Regions from separate parts of the Homo sapiens genome. Here regions 2 and 3 are each linked to region 1. Evidence: fine-mapped expression QTL. A gene starts in region 1. Each other region holds a variant in brackets. All regions are shown on one strand. Distances are from middle to middle. Region 1 holds the start of ESPNL (espin like). Region 2 overlaps KLHL30 (kelch like family member 30). Region 3 overlaps ESPNL (espin like).

What was found.
Region 2: its variant is fine-mapped to the expression of ESPNL in skeletal muscle (GTEx, PIP 0.97).
Region 3: its variant is fine-mapped to the expression of ESPNL in stomach (GTEx, PIP 0.96).

The regions. Positions count from the first base shown.
Region 1 is chr2:238,098,791-238,101,539 of GRCh38, forward strand. ESPNL (espin like) reads left to right here and starts at 1,550. Exons shown (of 9, transcript NM_194312.4): 1 at 1,550-1,923. The coding sequence starts at 1,630. It overlaps SCLY (selenocysteine lyase), which reads left to right. Exons shown (of 12, transcript NM_016510.7): 12 at 1-623. UBE2F-SCLY (UBE2F-SCLY readthrough (NMD candidate)) reads left to right here. Exons shown (of 19, transcript NR_037904.1): 19 at 1-623. RefSeq lists an enhancer at 1-63.
Region 2 is chr2:238,140,175-238,142,923 of GRCh38, forward strand. KLHL30 (kelch like family member 30) reads left to right here. Exons shown (of 8, transcript NM_198582.4): 2 at 511-1,354; 3 at 2,625-2,749. The coding sequence starts at 581. Among named protein-coding and RNA genes, the nearest start is that of KLHL30, 2.9 kb to the left of the region's middle. RefSeq lists an enhancer at 750-1,263. The variant G/A (reference allele first, on the strand shown) is at 1,327.
Region 3 is chr2:238,127,518-238,130,266 of GRCh38, forward strand. It overlaps ESPNL (espin like), which reads left to right. Exons shown (of 9, transcript NM_194312.4): 7 at 105-217; 8 at 1,190-1,387; 9 at 2,611-2,749. Among named protein-coding and RNA genes, the nearest start is that of KLHL30, 9.8 kb to the right of the region's middle. The variant A/G (reference allele first, on the strand shown) is at 1,477.

The sequences.
Region 1 (2,749 bases):
TATAACTCATTGTCAGCCAAATGCTATCATGAACGTAGGAAACTTGATTTTTTTGTTTTGATCATGGCCTCTACATGCACCTTTCCAGAGTGGTCTCTTCTCAGGCCCTTTTTAGTCCCTTTCCAAAGCTGCCCCCACCACCCTGCTCCTCTGGCCTCAGTGCACAGTGGCCCCCAGCCTCGGCCAGGCCTGCTCTGCTCAGCGCCCACCGCCCACCACCCCTCCTGCTTCCCCGAGCCTGACCCTGTTCCGCCCACTGGCAATCAGGGCTGCGCACTTCCCTGTCCACGGTCCCCAGGCCTTCCTGTCTTGTCCCTTTTGATCATTATTAACTCAGGGTTTCAGCTCCAACCTCGCTGAGTTGGTGCAGCTCCAGGTCATTCCTGGGGTGGGAATCGGATCATCCCTGACTCAGCTTTTACCTTAATTTTATTTGCAGAGGATTCTTTTCTCAAAATGCTCTGGCATTTGGACACACATCACATGTCGATATTTGCATAGGAGTCATTTTCAGTGGAATAACATTTTTAATGTGTGGTTTTACGGTTCAAGGAACTACTTGATGATTTTGAGGAAACACTTGCCAGAAACTAAATTAACGAATAAAAGATTTCAGTGCCCGACTTGGGGATCCTGTGGTTTCTCTAGTGGGCACTGCGCTTGGGCACAAAGTCATCTGACAGAGCCTGTCGGGGGGAAGCCAGGGGTGCAGCAGCCCCCAGGTCACCATTGTGTGATGATGCGTTAGCCCAGAAATCCAGCTTGAGGCTGTGTCTCCGGAAGCCCCTACAAATGTAATGGGTCCCCCATCTGCAGCTTCCCATTGCTGCCAGGAAGAGGCTGTGGTGGTCCTGACTTCCCTAAAGAAGAACTATGGATTGTCCAGAACAATCTGGAAAGGGGTTAAATGTACTTGGGCCCTTGGGGCTGCAGCCCAGAGACTTGGTCCGTGTAGTTGGAGAGGGGGCCGAGGCAGGGGCTGACACCTTCTCGCCTCAGAGGCCTGGACACACCCAAGTCAGGGTCCTGAGCCCATTGCAGGCCCCGTGGAGCCACTGTGTCCCCAGAGATTCCTAGGAGCCTCCAGGGCCGAGGGCCGGGACCCAGAGGCGGGGCGCTCAGCTCTGTGGGTGTCAACACAGCCAAACATGTAGACCTACTGGGCACCCTTTACTTCAGACACACTGTGGTGGCGGCTGGGGGTCTGCCCTTCTGTGAGAGTTGGGGGAACTGTCTCCCAGGCCACTCGGGGCTCCTGTGAGAAGCTCAGTGGCGTGTATCCTCAGCCCTCGCTCCACAGATGAAGTTCCTGCCATCTGGACAGATCTGAGCAGCCTCAGGGCCAGCCTCCTTTCTCTGCTGGCCATACCCAGCCCTGACCTAGCCTGGTGTGGGCCTTTCCCTGTGCCCTGTACTCCATCCTCCCAGCTCCAGGCACCTGGCACCCTCACACTGTGGGAGTGGCTTGGGCAGGTCCTCAAGGCCTGTCCCCCCACCCGACCCCACCCCACCGCCTCCCATCTGCCCTGTGGCAGCTTATCGGGTAACCAGAGCCGGCAGCTTCATCCACGTCTGAAACAGGAAGCCCCAGCCTGTGCATGAGTCGCCACTGAGAGCCCGGGCCAGAGGATGGAGAAGCAGCGGGCACTCGTGGCCGCCAAGGATGGGGATGTGGCGACGTTGGAGCGGCTGCTGGAGGCTGGCGCCCTGGGCCCGGGCATCACCGATGCTCTGGGGGCCGGCCTGGTTCACCACGCCACCCGGGCTGGCCACCTGGACTGCGTCAAGTTCTTGGTGCAGCGGGCCCAGCTGCCCGGCAACCAGCGGGCCCACAACGGGGCCACCCCAGCGCATGACGCCGCTGCCACGGGCAGCCTGGCCGAGCTGTGCTGGCTGGTCCGCGAGGGGGGCTGCGGTCTGCAGGTGAGCGGGGATGGGGCAGCCTGGCTCCACGAAGCTGGCTGGGGTGGAACCAGGGAGGTGTGAGCCACGGAGGATCAGAGTACTGGCCACCCCGGGCTCCATGGCCCTGGGCCCTTTGTTTCTCTTGGGGACTCAGTCAGTGGTTACCGTCTCTGCCCCACGCCTCTCAGAGCACAAAGGCTTGAGAGCCAAGAACACCTCCTAAATTTTCTTATCACCTTCCCTGCCAGGAAGCTGGGCGTTGCCAGTGGGGGTCTTGCCAGATATCAGGACCCCTGTCTCTGATCAGGCCTGGTCCACAGGGCCTGCCTCCCAAAGGGTCTAGAAAGGGATCCTTACAGAAGCACTGTGGGAACTTGGGCTTGAGAGCTGGGAGCCTAGCCCTGGGGGACGGGAGTTAGGGCTGCTGATGGTGATCGTCTTGTCCGGATCGTTTCTACTGGGCCCCCCTCCCCTATCCTGCCTGCCCAGTCCCCTTTGTGCAGGCGAGGCCCTTAGAGCTGTCGCTCAGCCCTGTGGAGCTTTCAGGGCTGAGGGTGAGCAGGACTGACCGGCCTTAGAACGCCGCCGCCCAGAGGTCAGAGTTGAGGTGGGGGCCGGTGGGGCCTGCTTAGACTGCGGAGCGGGAAGGTTCCCCAGCACCTGGCTCGCCAGAGCACCTGAGAGTCCCGGCCCAGCATCCTGTTCCTGTCGGCCCTTCCGCCAAACCCAAGGGCAGCAGGCGGGAGCTGTGCCTGCCTGGGGATCCATTCTGACAGGGCCCTTGGAGAAGGCCCAGGTCTGCTGGACCCCTGACACCTGTGGTAGGAACGCTCCCTGGCCCCGG
Region 2 (2,749 bases), 41 kb after region 1:
GGACTGTTGTGGGGCTGAGTGGTGAATGCACAGCTTCTCTGCATGCTTGGCACGTGGCCTGGCACCTGGGAGCACCGCGGGAGCAGGAGCTGCTGCAGCCCCCAAATGGCCTCCCCAGCAATGTGGGATCTGGGACGGAGGACGCCTCCCGGGAGTTTGGGTGTCTCCGGGGTCCCTGGGGGGTGGGCTCAGTGTAGCCCAGGGTTGCAGATGACACCCAGGGCATGGGTTCTTTTGCCAACCCTGTTCTGCCCTGAATGCCTGGCCATGGGTAGGTCTCCCACCCTCTCTGAACCTCAATTTCCTCACTGCAAATGGGAATGACACCTGCCCTACCTTGCAGGGTTCTGGGGGTGGCTTGAGGCAGATGGGGGGTAAAGTGACTGGCATATGGTCGATGCCCATCCTGTGTTTATCAAGGGGTGGAAAGGGCTGATGGACAGACCGGGTGGGTTGCTCAGGAGGATGAGACCATCCCCACTTGGCTGACCCTGCTCTCTTCTCTCCTAGGAGCTCGGGCGGCTCCAGGCACTTCTTCCCTTGAGTGGGTGGACTACTGAGGTCCCCTGGGCACGGCGTCATGGTGCGGAACGTGGATGACCTGGATTTCCACCTGCCCTCGCATGCCCAGGACATGCTGGATGGCCTGCAGCGCCTGCGCTCTCAGCCCAAGCTGGCCGACGTCACACTGCTGGTGGGCGGCCGGGAGCTGCCATGCCACCGCGGCCTCCTGGCGCTCAGCAGCCCCTACTTCCATGCCATGTTTGCGGGTGACTTCGCCGAGAGCTTCTCTGCGCGCGTGGAGCTGCGGGACGTGGAGCCCGCCGTGGTGGGACAACTGGTGGACTTCGTGTACACAGGCCGGCTGACCATCACGCAGGGCAACGTGGAGGCGCTGACACGCACGGCTGCGCGCCTGCACTTCCCCTCGGTGCAGAAGGTCTGCGGCCGCTACCTGCAGCAGCAACTGGATGCCGCCAACTGCCTGGGCATCTGTGAGTTCGGGGAGCAGCAAGGGCTGCTGGGCGTGGCTGCCAAGGCCTGGGCCTTCCTGCGAGAGAACTTTGAGGCTGTGGCACGTGAGGACGAGTTCCTGCAGCTTCCCCGAGAGCGGCTGGTCACTTGTCTGGCCGGCGACCTGCTGCAGGTACAGCCGGAGCAAAGCCGACTCGAGGCCCTGATGCGCTGGGTGCGCCATGACCCGCAGGCCCGGGCCGCCCACCTGCCCGAGCTGCTCAGCCTAGTGCACCTGGACGCCGTGCCCAGGCCCTGCGTGCAGCAACTGCTGGCCTCAGAGCCCCTGATCCAGGAGTCAGAGGCATGCCG[G/A]GCAGCCCTGTCCCAGGGCCATGATGGGGTGAGTGAGCGGCTGGGAGGCCCCATCCCTGGGAAGCAGGGAGGAGAGCCCCAGAGACCCCACCTGAGTAGGGACAGAGTAAGGAGTGGACATTCCAAGGTGCACTCTGACCTTGCCACGCTCCTTGTTTTGGGCCAGTTCCCCATGAGGACATCACTATTCAGCCCTCAAGTGCAGATCATGCCTCTGTGTGTGTCACGCCCTGTGTGCAAGGGGCAGGGGAATGTGGAAGTGGTAAGATCTGGCCCTGTCCTGAAGGAGCCTGCAGCTCAGTGGGACAAGCCTGGAAACAGACCTCAGGCAGTGTGGAAGGGCCAAATACATGCCTAGGACGCATTCTGGGTGGGCTGGCAGTCAAGGAGGGCTCTCTGGAGGAGGCAGCATCTGAGCTGGGCCTTAGAGGAGGGATAGGAGCTCACAAGGAGGAAAAGAGGGGAAAACCATCCAGGAAGGAGGTGCAGCTTGTGCACAGGCAAGGAGGCACAGACAGGCCTGGCAGTCCGCCTGAGCTTTTATGGGGTGCTACTTCCTGTTTGTGCTGGCAGTGTGCCTGGCAGGCATGGCAGGTCATGATGGAATGACAGGTCTGGGAGTGGCTGTTCGGTCAGCTGCCGGGCACCCTGCTCAGGGGCCTTGCTTCGGGGCACTCCTTTAGAGCCAAGTCCGGGGACAAAGAGTGGCTCAGACTGATGGTCCTCAGGCCAAGGGTGGAGTGAGTAGTGGGCTAAACCCTAACCCCTGTCCCCACTGGATTCCAGCCAGTCACAGAGCGCCCGGCCTCCTGCTGGAGCTGGCTTCAGAGCCTTGCCCGTGGACGGTCACCTTGTATTCTAATTCCTGGCAGTGGGAGATCTGGGGGTTCCATATGGGGGGCCAGGGTGGATGGCTGTGGGAGAGCCTGGGGTCCTGGGAGACCTAGGCAGTGACTGCTTACCGGCCGTTCCTAAGACAGCCAGCATTTCCCACTGAGCCGGGACACCCTCGTGCCGCCTGCTGGAGGCCACCCAGGGAGCAGGGGCAGGGAGAAGCTTATGCGTGGCGCTGCGGACCTGCTATGGGATCGGTTCTGAAGATGGTTCAGGAACTCCAGGAATGCCCCTGAAAGGCACATGGTGCAAGGAGGGAGCAGCTTGTGCACTCGGGCACACGCCATCTCCAGCAACATGCAAGCACACATGCACTCACATGCTGAGGCCTGCCCAGGACACGCGGGGGCTCAGGGCATGGGGACACATTGCTGTTGCCCTGACCCTGGCCTCCCACCCCACAGGCACCACTCGCCCTCCAGCAGAAGCTGGAGGAGGTCCTGGTGGTGGTGGGCGGGCAGGCGCTGGAGGAGGAGGAGGCAGGTGAGGAGCCCACCCCCGGCCTTGGGAACTTTGCCTTCTACAACAG
Region 3 (2,749 bases), 29 kb after region 1:
TCGTTCAGGAGGTCAGCTCTGCCCCCAGGGCCGGATCCCCGAGGCTCTGGGTCTCTGCTCCCCAGCCCTTGCCCTTTCTGCAACACCCTTCTTCTTCTTGGCAGCCATGTCCCTCAGCCCGGCCTGGCCTGGCCATCCTGACCAGCCTCTTCCCAGGGAGCAGATGACCAGCCCGGCCCCTCCGAGGATCATCACCAGTGCCACGGCTGACCCCGAGGTTCGTCCTCCACCCCTGCATTCCTGTCTCCCGGGGCCCCTAGCCAGCCTCCATTCCCATCCTCTTAGGGGCCCAGAGAAGCCCCCAGCACAGCCAGGCCTTTCCTGAAGGGTGGATGCCAGGCTGCCTGCGTCACTCCGCTGCTCTCGAGAACACCCTGAGTTCTGAAGAGACAGGAATGTCAGGGCGACGGCAGCTGTCCCCCCCACCACAGAAACACGGGGACCCTTCTCTGTTATCCCAGAGGGCTGCAGTGGCCCAGGCCCCTCTCCCTGACCTCTGAGCTCAGGGGTGCTCCGTGCCCGCTTGGAGTGCGGAGATCGCAGCAGCCATCCATGGGCAGGGCCCCGCTGCCACCGTCCTCCTCCTCAGGGCCTCGGCCAGCCCAGACCAGCAGAAGGGTCCTGCTCCCCCTTACTCTCCCTTTCCTGGGCGCCGGGCCCTTAGAAAGCCAGCCCAGACTTTCCCTGCGTGGTACTGCAGATTCTCAACCATTGAGGTGTTCGGTGGGAGTCTGGGAAACGCCACGTGGCGCTGCTGCCCGTCGTGGAGAGCTGGAGCGCGCACGGCACATTGAAGGCTCTGACAAGCCCTCCGCGGCACAGGATTGGCTGCCAGGCTTTGTCTATGTAGCTGTGCCCAGAGCAAGTTTGCCCAGGGATACGGTGCGCTCCGCGAGCATCTGCTGGGCTTGCACAGGGGACGGGGAGGGACCTCTGGTTTCATTTCTCTGCCGACAATCCCCTCACACACATCTTACCCCGCCCCCTCCAGTCCCTCCCCTCTGAGGCCTCACTCTTAAGCTGGGGATGAGGGGGTGGGGTGCTGTCCGTGGCCCCCACTGTCCCTCCTCTCAGGGCGCCCTGTTAGCGTGCCCTGGGCGGAGCCAACCCCCCACGTCCTCTCGGATCTTCCCTCCACTCAGGGCCTGGGTCCCCTTCGGGCCTGTGTGACCCACCCCCTTCTGCACAGGGGACAGAGACGGCGCTGGCGGGGGACACCTCAGATGGCCTGGCCGCACTACAGCTGGATGGGCTGCCCTCAGGCGACATCGACGGGCTGGTGCCCACGCGGGATGAGCGCGGCCAGCCCATCCCAGAGTGGAAGCGGCAGGTGATGGTGCGGAAGCTGCAGGCGCGCCTGGGCGCAGAGAGCTCCGCAGAGGCCCAGGTAGGCCCCCGGCAGGGGCGGGACCAGTGGGCGGGGCGGGGCCTTTTCCAGGTAGGTGGAAGTGGAAGTCAGGGCGCCCGAAGCCCAGA[A/G]CTGAATCCAAGACCCAGGGGCCCCTCTCCTCTGTGGCCTCAGCTGCTGCTTCCGCCGGAGGATGAAGTGAACCTGACCAGAGGACTCTGAGCAGAGCCCCTTCACCTGCTCTGGAGGCATGGGTCCCACGTATCCTTCCACTTGGCGGATTTGTGGCACATGCCTGCCTGTGCCAAGCGTTGTTCTAGGCCTTCCTGGGCGCAGCGTCTAGCAGGGAAGACGGTGGCCCATGGGCAGGTGCCGGCAGGTGTGTGGGGTGCGATTCCCACTGCTGTGGAGAAAGCAAAGCAGTTGGGGGACTATGATATATGGGTGCTTAGGGGGCCCCCTCTGGGGACGTGGCCTTGAGCAGGGGCCAGAGGGAAGAGAGGGGGAGCCCTGTGGGAATTTGGGGCAAGCACCTCCTAGGCAGAGGGAACAGCCAGTGCAAGGGTCCTGAGGCCGGGCTGGCCGGGGGAGGAGCAGGAGGAGGCGCCCTGGCATGGAGTGGGCGCCTGAGGTTGGAGAGGAACCTGGCTGGGATTATTGCACCTCTGTGAGGCCGTGGGGAGCCACTGAGAATCTGAGCAGAGAAGGGCTGTGATGTGCCTTGGATTTTAACAGGCTCCCCGGGCTGCTGTGCAGACAGGAGTTCAGGAATTATGTCCTCAGAGTCCTATGATTTTGTCAAGATGATTGAGTTCTGTGCCCCCGGCCCAGCGCTGTGTCCAGCGCAATCCTGCCAGCCACATGCAGCCACTGAAATTCATTACAATTTAAGGAAAGTAAAAGTCCTGCCCCTCCGTCGCACCAGCCACCTGTCGTTTCTGTAGCCACAGGTGGCTCCTGGCTGCTGGAATACAGCCTGTCTCCATCGTCTCAGGACTGTGGGACAGCCCTGTCTGAGGGCCCAGCCTGTCCTTGCCTGTTGGGCTGGGAGCCGTAGGGGCTGAAAGCCACAGGGTTGAGAGCAGAGCAAGACGGGCAGAGCAGGTCAGGGGCTTCTGCCCTAGCTGGGAAGCCCTTTAAAGTCTTACCTTGGGGCAGGACCAGAGGCTCTGCAGAGATACTGAGAACTCAGGGACTTGGAAGCTAGGTGGGCTGATGGTGGGTGGGTGGGCTCACCCTGCTCACCCTGCCCTTCCTGTGCCCAGGACAATGGTGGGAGCTCAGGCCCCACGGAGCAGGCGGCCTGGAGGTACTCACAGACTCATCAGGCCATCCTGGGGCCCTTTGGGGAGCTGCTGACAGAGGATGACCTGGTCTACCTGGAGAAGCAGATTGCAGACCTGC